2 separate regions of the Homo sapiens genome follow, and region 2 is linked to region 1. Evidence: fine-mapped expression QTL. Tissue or cell type: lymphoblastoid cells. Region 1 holds a variant in brackets; the other region holds the start of a gene. All regions are shown on one strand. Distances are between the middles of the regions. Region 1 overlaps COLGALT2 (collagen beta(1-O)galactosyltransferase 2). Region 2 holds the start of TSEN15 (tRNA splicing endonuclease subunit 15).

What was found. PIP is the estimated chance that this variant, and not a neighbour inherited with it, causes the effect.
Region 2: TSEN15 starts here. The variant in region 1 is fine-mapped to the expression of TSEN15 in lymphoblastoid cells (TwinsUK, PIP 0.95).

What each region holds. Positions count from the first base shown.
Region 1 is chr1:184,020,923-184,026,303 of GRCh38, reverse strand. All of the region lies in intron 1 of COLGALT2 (collagen beta(1-O)galactosyltransferase 2), which reads left to right. Among named protein-coding and RNA genes, the nearest start is that of COLGALT2, 14 kb to the left of the region's middle. RefSeq lists an enhancer at 704-1,443. The variant CA/A (reference allele first, on the strand shown) is at 2,660.
Region 2 is chr1:184,048,763-184,054,143 of GRCh38, reverse strand. It overlaps TSEN15 (tRNA splicing endonuclease subunit 15), which reads right to left and starts at 2,414. Exons shown (of 5, transcript NM_052965.4): 1 at 2,254-2,414. The coding sequence starts at 2,388. RefSeq lists enhancers at 2,335-2,629, 2,508-2,637, 2,698-2,807, 2,560-3,495.

The DNA of each region.
Region 1 (5,381 bases):
GTGAACTGCATACCACAGCTTAGCACATCCCACCAAGAAAATAACAATCACCTGGAGATGAAGTGAGGCTGGTGGCAGTGGGGTCTCCAGGACAGTTTCCTCTAGCCAAAAGCAGCGTCTTTCATTTTTCCCTAGTGTGCAAATACGCTATCTGTGTTGTCCTGTGAAAGGTCTTGGAAGCATTGCTCATGCTAGGCTGCTTTGAGCAAGTCACTTAGTTTCTCCTGTAACATAAGGGAAATGTGCTAAAATTGTGCTTTTCAAATGCAGCCACTTATTGGAATCATTTGATGATCCAGGGCAATTGACGTATTTTGAAAACTTCCCAAAGGGTGGTAATATGCAGTCTTGCTTAAAAATCTCTAGATGAGATGTTCTCTGAGTCCTTTCCTGACCTAACACTTTCCTCTTCATGGGGATAACCATATCTGAAGAATGTTCACATAACTGCATAATCGATGCTTCCTGGACCCTCAGCCCAACTTTAGATCTCTGGGGGATGGCTTTAAAAAATCCTTTTCTAGGAAGCTCGTGGTATTTTATCCTGTTTTATACTGTGCGAAAGGTGTTTGCTAAGAGTGTTGTCTCCTTGGGAAGGCACGTGCTTGATGATGACTGAACTCCCAAGGAAAGTGGCAACATGAGAGCTAGCCTTGCAATGGCATATATTAGACCTTCTTATGAAGGAGCTGTGTGCACCAGGTAGAGAAGCAGCAGCTGCCCAGGAGGTCCTTCCTTTGGCACACAGATGGTTGCCTCTTGACTAAGGGAGCTGCATATATCAAGACTTCTGAGCACATCTAGCCAGGCTCTGGCCAGCTCAGGATTCCTTCCTACAGTATGTGTTTTGGTGTGTTGCCCAGCTTTGCTTTTAGGTTTCCTATTTCATACTGGTCTAGGGCCTCTAATCCTCTCTGGGTATTGAATTTCTGATGTTACTTCTGATGGCTTTGGAGATTAGCTTCTTTTGTTTCCAGATTTGCATAAACAGTGCTGCCTTTGTCCCCTGGTCTTGACCCAGCTTCAAAGCTTTGACGGGCATCAAAGACACACTGGATCCTCATTTCTTAGGCATCAGATGGCAGCAATGCCAGCAGGTGACTGAAGGTTATAGCCCCACTTTTGGGCCAGTTTTCTGTCTCTCAGTCAGAAAAGATTAGGTTACATTCTGCCAAGTCCTCTGACAATGGTTCTGAATCTTAACAGCTTTCATAACGCCTGTGCGAATACCATTGAACTAAAGGGGAACTGCTGGTGTTTGTCTAAAGTGGAAAGGGCAGTAACTCCCTAATATTTGCTGAACTCTCCTTGCCCTATGAGAGGCAGATTATTAAGTGTCCCTCTGGAAAGCATGGAACCTCCAAGCCCATTGGCCAGACTTTGCTACTGATAATCTTCTTGTGAGGCCCAAGACCTCATTTTCCCATGCATCTTATCAAAATAACAGCAGTAGTAGAACTATCAGTTGTCTATGCATGGATTGTCAGTATGTTGGATATGTAGAAGCCAGTTTTGATAACAGGTCAGCTTGGTCCAATCATCCAACAAACCCTTGAGCTGTATCTCTGTCTCTGTGTTGCCTGATACTTGTATGTTTAGAGAACGGAGCCTAATTTTTATCTCTGCTCAGAAAAAAAAAAAAAAAAAAGCTGAGGCTGGGTGTGGTGGCTCACGCCTGTAAACCCAGAACTTTGGGAGGCCAAGGCAGGCAGAACACCAAGGTCAAGAGTTTGAGACCAATCTGACCAACATGGTGAAACCCCATCTCTACTAAAATACAAAAATTAGCCGGGTGTGGTGATGGGCACCTGTAATCTCAGCTACTCGGGAGGCTGAGGCAGGAGAATCACTTGAACCCAGGAGATGAAGGTTGCAGTGAGCCGAGATCATGCCACTGCACTCCAGCCTGGGCGACAGAGTAACACTCTGTCAAAAAAAAAAAAGAAAAAGAAAAAGAAAAAAGCTGAAAGGTATTCAGCAACATTCCATACAGAGCATTCCAGTACCAGTAATATCTGATTTCTTAACTGCTCTTTTGCATTGTCTATGTCATGTACCACTGTATTTTCAAATTTTCTTGAATTCTTTGCCTTGCCTTGCCCTCCTACCTGTACAATGAGGGTTGCATAGGCTAATCTTTCAAGACTTTTCTAGCCACCACATGCTATGTATTTGAAGTTCCACCACTAATGCCATGAAAAATGAAACAACTCACGCTATTGCCACATTATTTAAGATGGCATTTTGAGCTTTTTTCCTTTATTTTTACTTAGATTTGACTTCTTCTGTAGTTTTGACTTATCCATGTCTCAAATCCTTGGTGATTAGACTGATGATTCATATCTATATAAAAATTGTAAAAACTTATTTGCCCTCTAACCTGAGTGAAAATGCTATCTTTTTTCATGAACAACAGAAGCAAAAAAAGGCTGTGATGAGAAGAAAAAAAGCCCAGAGAATTATGTCAGAACTATGTCAGAGGAGATAGTTCCAGGTCTGAAAACTAGGAAATCTATTGCTGTTGACTCCACTAGGAGTGGAATATTTGCAGCATAAGTGTACGTGTTGCAGGTATTTGGTTAGATTTAATTTTATCATATATGCAAAATAAGTAAGTGCAAGTCTTCCCTAGAATGCTTCCGGCACCGCCCCCCCCCCC[CA/A]CCTCACGCACTTTTGGAAAAAGCAAAAACAGCAGTTTGACATTTGCCATTGTGATGGGAAACGATATGTGTGTTTGTTATTTGCAAAAGTTACTGGTGTTTTTTGCTCAGTCTGCTGTGTAAGGAAAGCAGCCTGCATTTGCACTTTGGAGGTTAGAAGAACCTGCCAGTTGGAATTCAAGTCTCACCAAGCTAGTGGATTATCACACTGAAGTGATAGCTCCTCCTATGGAAAGGCTTTACTTCACAGTAGTGTCATTATATAGAAATACTAAACATTGGCAATGCCTTCAGAGGCCAAAAGCATGAGTGCCATGAAAGGTCCTTGTAACATGAAGCTGGTTGGGGCTACCTCCCTCCTTGCTGACACTTTAGGAGCAAAACAAAAGTCAAAGGAAGTAGAGATATGGGAGACTGAAAATCACTTGTCTCCTGAGTTTGAGTTTATATGCTACAGAAAAGTCAAAATCAAGAAGGCAAAAACTTTCTTTTTCAAGGAGTCTTCCCCTTAGTAACTCTTTGACTTACACTAGGGGTTTAGTTTCTAAAATCAAACGCTTCCCTTTCCAAGCTATAACTAATAAATAAAAAAGCACATCCTTCTGCTAGATCAGAATTATCTCGAGAAAATACTGCTCTTTGGCTGACTCCCTCATCCCTCTCCAGTCTTGGCTATTCAGCTGATACTCTCCAGCTGTAGGCCAGCTGCCTTGTTTCCCTGAAATGTGGTGCCAGCTGTTTTGAGTTTCTTAAGGAAGGTTTCTCTTGGGTGCATTGGTAACACTAGGGCTCAAGCATGAAAGCATAAAATGCCCTAATGAGTTTTCACTTTGATATCATAGTCAATGTGATTTAATGGACTGAGGGTGAAACGATTTCTGCCCTGAGGCAAAACAGATTTTGAAGCTTTTCTCTCTCTTCTTTGTAATAGAGTATCTGAGATTTAGTGTTGCTTCCCCTAAGCTATATATCAGTTGTCAAGTATTAGATAACAAATTGCCTTTGTGTTCTATAGCTTTGAGCCAGAAAGCAACAGTTTCCCTTATTATTTTGATGTCAAAGGAGCAGAAGAACCATACTCTGTGTTTTACCTTCTGAAATAATTTCTCCTGAATTGATTTTTTGGAGTGAATTTAGAGTTCTCATTTTTATTTAAATTTCACTCCTACTTGTACTAACATCGTTTGTTTGGCTCCATTTTCTCCCTTCTAATTATTTTCTTTCTGTGTTTCCAAACAGGCATTTTTCTAGGTAAATCTTAAGGCTTCTCACATTGGGGATCAAGTTTCCAACACATGAACTTTGGAGGACACATTCAAGCCAGAGGAGTCACTAAAAAGAAATTAATACTTTCTTCAGGCTCCTTAGTTAATTTATTGATGGATTGATCTATTTATTTATTCACGTAATTAGTTTTAGTCATTGTAGTAGAAATTCAACTGTCTTATCTGAAATAATTGGGAGAAGGTGTTCTTCCTTTCACCTTGTACAGAATGATTATGACTTAAAAAATCCAGACAGATAACTCTTGTCTTCAGCAACTTTACAAATATATTTGCCTTCCTTAGTTTTTGAGCCCTAAGACGATAAGGGTTACACATGGCTACAGCCTGCCCCAAGTTTACTCTGGCTGCCAGAATAATACAGTATCCTTTCCAGACCCCTGAACAATCAACTGTTAACAAGTGAGATCATTTTTGGTAGAAGAATTGCATATGTCATTGTCTCAAAAGAGACATGGGCTGCAAATCCTGTCTGGGGACTTGCTTCCAAATACTTGTTCAAACTCCTCCCAGCTTTGTCTGCACTTGGCATTAATCCCACTTTGACATTCAAAGAGCTTGAGTGCTGCACATTCTCAACTAAATAGATAGTAAAACAAAACCAGTAACTTGTTATTAAATACATAGTGAAGGGGGCAGTAGTCATTTTATTATTCTTTTCATTTATTCTGTCACTGTCTTAGTCTGTTTTGTGCTGCTATAATAGAATACCACAGACTGGGTAATAATTTATAATGAACAGAATTCACTGGCTCATGGTTCTGGAGGCTGGGAGTCCAAAATTGAGGGGCTGGCATCTGGCGACGGCCTTTTTGCTACATCATTCTATGGTGGTAGGGCAAGAAAGGGTGAGAGAGAACAAGAGAGGCCAAACTTGTCCTTTTATAAGGAACTCGCTCTCATGATAACAAACCCCCTCATTCAATAACAATAGTAGTCCACTCATGAGGGCAGAGCTCAAGTCCCACTTACCTCTTGAATGTCCCACCTCCCAACGTTACCACATTGGGGATCAAGTTTCCAACACATGAACTTTGGGGGACACATTCAAACCATATAAGTCACTAAAAAGAAATTCATACTTTCTTCAAATGTCTTAGAAAAGTAGAAAGCTTTAATGAGTTTTTTCAAGTCCTTTAAATGTTGAAGTAGTGTATAAAAATACAAGGTTTTGGAACCTCAAAGGCTTGCTTTTTAAAAACAGTGAACTGTAACAGCACCAACCTCTCCCGATGGACCCAGTGATCCTTGCCTCCTGGTATTCACTCCTATAGTCTCGTGCCATGCTGAATCATGTGACTTGACAGGATAGGCAGAAGTGAGATCCTGTGACTTCTCAGGCCAGATTATAAACGGCACTTCAGTTTCTGCTATGGATTGCTTGCTCTGGGGAATGCCAGCCCCCATGCCATGAGAACATCCAAACAGTCCCAAGCAG
Region 2 (5,381 bases), 28 kb before region 1:
ATATGACTGTAAGTGATTAAAAACCATGTAAATGGAATAAAAAACATGACACAGCAGGTCAGAAGAGCTCTACTCAGAGGGACTGGTGAAAGATTTATAGCAGAGGTGGGATGGGATACAAGTTGAGCACTGAAGAACATTATGATTTAAGTAAGTGGAGAAGTAGAGTAATACTGCAGGTAATTACACAAAGGTGGGATTAAGCCACATACATTCAAGGGCCTGTAAAGAAACCTATCTGCCAGCAATAGAGAAACCTTTTTAATAAAACTTGTGATGGGACATGTTAGTGGGTACTGTGTATTTCCCTAGCCTCTTATTTGTATATGGAGAGAATCTGCTAGAGTATCAGTCCTAGCCTCTCTACCCACTCTTTCTCACTTTAAGAGTAGATTTTTTAAAAGGAATTGACAAGGAACTAGAGAAAGCTGCTTCTTTCAGACTACTGGTCAGCATAAGGGGAATACTTTTCAGGGGCCTACACCTGCAGGAGAATTCTGAGGCTGCCCAGCTATGCCAGCGACTAGGTGGATATGCAGGGCTAATGCTGAGTTGAATTATTAGCAGACCTGCATGGGGACAGGTCTAAAGTCACATTCTCCCATCAGCTTCACTGTAACTGTACAGGTTCAGGAGGACAGGGGTTAATTAGTTGTCGACTTCAAACATGTTTTGAAAATAACACCCAAAACATAATTTTGAGCCAGGTTACAAGGCTTTGGTGGTCAAGCTAAACATGTGATTTTATCAGTATGGAAACACTGAGGATTTCTAAGCAGGAGAATAATAAAATAAAAGTGTGTTTGGGGATAATAAATCTGGTACCATTTTACTGGATGAAACTACATAATTTTTAAATTAACAGAAAGGTGAAATTGGAAAAACAAATACCCCCTATTATTTTATTACTTGTTCTTTTTCTTTTAAAAATTAATTTGATCCTTCAAGAAGAGAAATCAAAAGGGGAGATTTGATGGTCAAGGTGTATACAGCCATTAACTTGAAAAAGAAAACAATCTACAAGTATATAAACTGAATAACACCACCAAATCTAGATAAAGTCTTAAAAAGTTGTTACTGGTGTTTCGCTTATTAAGTACTTATATAGTGCTTTCTGTATGTTGAATGGCTTACAAATATTCATTAATTTAATCCTGTAACAACCGTATAAGTAAGTATGGACTATTAATATCCCCATTTTTCAGGTGAGGAAACTAAGGCATAATAAGATCAAGCAACTTGTCCCAAATCACAAGGTTGATAAGTGACAGAATCAGGATTTAAACTGAGTCTGATTTTGAGTTCATGCGCCTAACCAATATGCTGCCTCTCCATGCTATTGTTTCCCTAAAAGGGCACTAAATAATATTTCCATGCTATTGTTTCTTTTTCTCACCTTTTGGGAGGATGAAGGGGACAGAGTAGGAAGATAAAATTAAGCAAGAGAAGCTGAAAAAGGTTAACTCTTCAAACTTATACCTTCAAATTTTTTCTTGGCTGTTTTTAGATGATTATGAATTATTGCTCTCTAGCAGAAGAGTGCAATTCTGTTAAAGTACCGTAGAGACTAGTTTTTGAGATTCTTACAAAACCCACATCTCCATTCACTGTCTATTCACTGCTTGGAACCGTACTTGTACAAGGCAGTAATGTCTCAAGCAGAAGTAAGCAGAGGACTATCTTGATCTCGCCTGCTGCTAATCTAGAAAAATACACGCAAAATGTGAGTAGCTCTGCTTTGAGCAAGAACCTATTCAAACTTTCGAAGAAATCTGAAATATTAGGAATCTGCACCTTTTCAAAATAAAGATGCATTCTGGGCCCAAGGCTAAGTGTAAACGTGACTGTGCTTAAATCTTTATCACTATGGACCCCTAGATCTTATCCATCGCCCACAAATTGTCTTGCATGGTTACCGTGAGGATTAAATAAATTTATCCCCCAAAGGGGATTTACCTAGACAGCAAAACTAGTGGAGCGCTTATTAGGGATCTCCGGCTTGAGAGGGGCGGAGTTACTGTCTGGCTCTCAGTTCCAAAATGGCTTTGGCTGGGGGATTGAGATAGTGCAACTTGTTTAAACAAACAAAACCGATGCTGCCTGAGGCTGGCAGTTGTGCACACCGGTCCCCCTCGGTGAGGGTGGCGCGCGTCCTCAGTCTCCCACTGAGGAAGAAAGAAAGAGAGCTGCCTGGGAGTGTTCTGCCTGGGTTAGGGGCCTGGACGGCGCCCTGCTCCTCTCGCGCCTCCTGACCTTAGGGTGAGTGCCCATCCAGGCGTCCTCAGGGGCCCACGAAGGAGCTCCACCGCCGTCGCCAAAGCCGCGAACACCGCCCGGACCCAGGCCGCTGCAGCCGGGGGTCGGCTCGGAATCGCCGCGCTCCTCCATGCCGGCCGGTGCGGCGCTCCCGTGGTGCACCACGACCCGCGCCCGGCCAGAAGCAGCGGCGCGCGCGCCTGTGGGTTCCGCTTCCCCGAGGCTCGCAGCTGCAGTGCGAGAGGGCTCAGAAACTGGGAGGAAAGTTGCATCAGCCCCTCCTTCTGACCAAGGTAGCTAGAACCTGCGCGAACGCTCTCTAGTTTCGCTCTGCGTTTATTCAAATCTGAGCAAATTCTAACGTGAAAAATATTAAAGAGTAGCCTGCGCCCTGAAGCTCTTAATCCTCTTTAAGTCAGTGCTGCCGATAACTCTCTGAGAAAGTTGGGGGATACATACGTCCTCTTTGCCTTCAGCAGTGGGGTCCTGGTTTCTGATTGCTGGGGACGGGAAAGGCCTTACTCAGTGCCCTGACATAGAACTTTAAAGTAGAACCATACTTTCAGGGTGGACCCACGTTTCAGGATTAGAGGAAACACGAGTTGCTGAACGAGTGTTCAGAAAGGTAGGATACAAACTAGCATAAGCATGTGATCTGGAAGCCAAGGATGAGGAGTTTCAAACAGGCAGAGTAGCACATTTTAAGTATTTTTTAATTTACTGTGAGTGAAATGGGAAGCTATTGGAGGCTCCTGGACGTTTTCATAGGATCACTCTGACTGATATGTTGAGGATAGACTGGAGGGAGCAAGGACACAAACAGAGACTGGTTAGGAGGCTATCGCATTGACCAGGACAAGGGTGACTCAAAATCCAAAGTCCCAGGCAGGACATAACTTCTGTTTTCAACCATGATAGACTAAGACCCTAGTGGACCATCCCCCAGCAGAAAACAATTTGGACACAATGCAAAAAGCTGAATATACTGGAATGTGAATAGTGGACTGGTAGGAAGGGCAAGCTTGCTTGAAGATCAGGAACTACACTTGGACACAATACAAAAAGCTGAATATACTGGAATGTGAACAGCAGACTGGTAGGAAGGGCAAGCTTGCTTGAAGATCAAGAACTCCACAAGAAAATTCTCCTCTCTTTGGCATTTAGCTTGGGGCAAAGTGCAGTCCAGAAGTCAGGCTCAGCAGTACCAGGGATGCATGTATAAAACTTATCAGTTATTCTTGTCTGGGGAAGCAGAAAAGTGAAGACAGAAAATTTTGAATTCTGAAGAGATTAAGAAATCCCAAGGAAGGAGTCAGAGAGTGGATCCCCAAACTGTCAACCCACATCTCTGAGAGATCCTGAACCACCCAAAACAGAATCACAGCAGCTCAGTTAAAAACAAAAGATCTGAACTGAGACCAGAGCTGTCTCCAAAAGGGAGAGAGTTTTCAGTTAAAATCTAGCCGGGAAAATTACCTACTAATACAAAGGAAATAACACTCATCAGAGAAGAATAATAGAATCCAGACTCTCCACTTAACACTCACAAAGTCCAGAGTACTATCCAAAACTATCTGACATATGAAATTCAAGGAAATGGATCGCATACTCTAGAGATCAACCCTGAGATGAATCAGATATTGAAACTGACAGATAAGGATTTTAAAGTGACTATTATAACTATCCTCAATGAAGTAAAACATGTTTTCAATGAATGAAAATCTCAGGAGACAAATAGAAAATCTCAGCAAAGAAAAAGAAAAAAAAAGATTTTTAAAACCAAATGGAAATTCTGAAAATTGAAAATTATAATTTTAGAAATAAAAAATTCACTGGGTGAATTTAACAGCCAAAAAAAATTACAAAAGAAAAAGTAGGGAACTTGAAGATAGAGCAATAGAAATTATTAAAAGTAAACAACAAAGAGAAAAATTATCTTTAAAAAGTGAGTAGACCAACAGAGATTTGCTACATGTCAGACAATCCAACATGCATGTAAACAACAGAAGTAGAAAAAAAAAGGGACAGAAAAAATTTTTGAAGAAAGAGTGGTGGCCAGAATTTCCCCAAATTTGATGAAAAACACATTTACTAGTACAAAATGCTAAATACATAGCAACTAAAATAAACACAAAGAAGTCTACATTGTAATAAAACTATTGAAAGTCAAAAAAATAAAGAGAAAAGCTTGAATGCATCAAAAGAAATAACACATCATACACAGGGAAAAGAAGGGCATCTATTATTGAATGAAATGTAAAGCCACACATGAAGATTCATATGTTGCCCTCAAATACATTACATTTGAATGAACCTTTGCCACCACAAAGCAGCTGCTAAGCCCGAAAGAAGAAAATGGCACTGAAATTAATTGGGTCATTGAAGCATGAAACACTGACACGAATTCAAGTGATTGGAAGTGAATAAATCTCTCTGACTCCTAAAGATCCAAATCAGTTCATATGATGGCATTTTTAAAAGCATTAAGAGTATTTTGATGCTAATCTGAGTAGAGGGAAACTTTTATAAATCAGTAAGGATATCCAATGGGATTAGGGACTATATGAACCAGCCTCAAACATCTGCAGGGGAAGAATTTCAGCTTATGTTCAAGAAAAAATAATTGGGGGTATGGAAAGAACCATAAACCAAAAAAGCAACAGATAAATGCCATCCTTTGGCAAATAGATTAAATACTGTTGCTTAGAAAAAGCATGATACATTCAAGAATGAGTATTACGTGCTTTTCAAAAGAGTTGAAGAATGAAAAGGGAGTGTCTGTTAGCTTCCCTGTTAATGTAAATTTTTAAATAGGTCTTGGTGATTGTGAATGGCTAAGAATGAACACAAAGGATTTGGGAACACTTAGACAACCCAGTATTTAAAGTACAGAATCAAAATACCTATTGTGACAATCTAGAGTGAAATCCACTAGAGAACAGAGGAGAGTTTCAGTGTCTGGTATCCTGGAGGATTTCTCATTTTGTAAATGCTTCAATAGTTCACTCTATTAGAGAACCAAAGTAGTGAGAAAAAAAAGCTAGATAAGAAACAACGAATGAAATCCCCCCTGAGTATATTGGATTTAATCAAATTCATTGTAATCTGGCACTTGCTGAACTCAT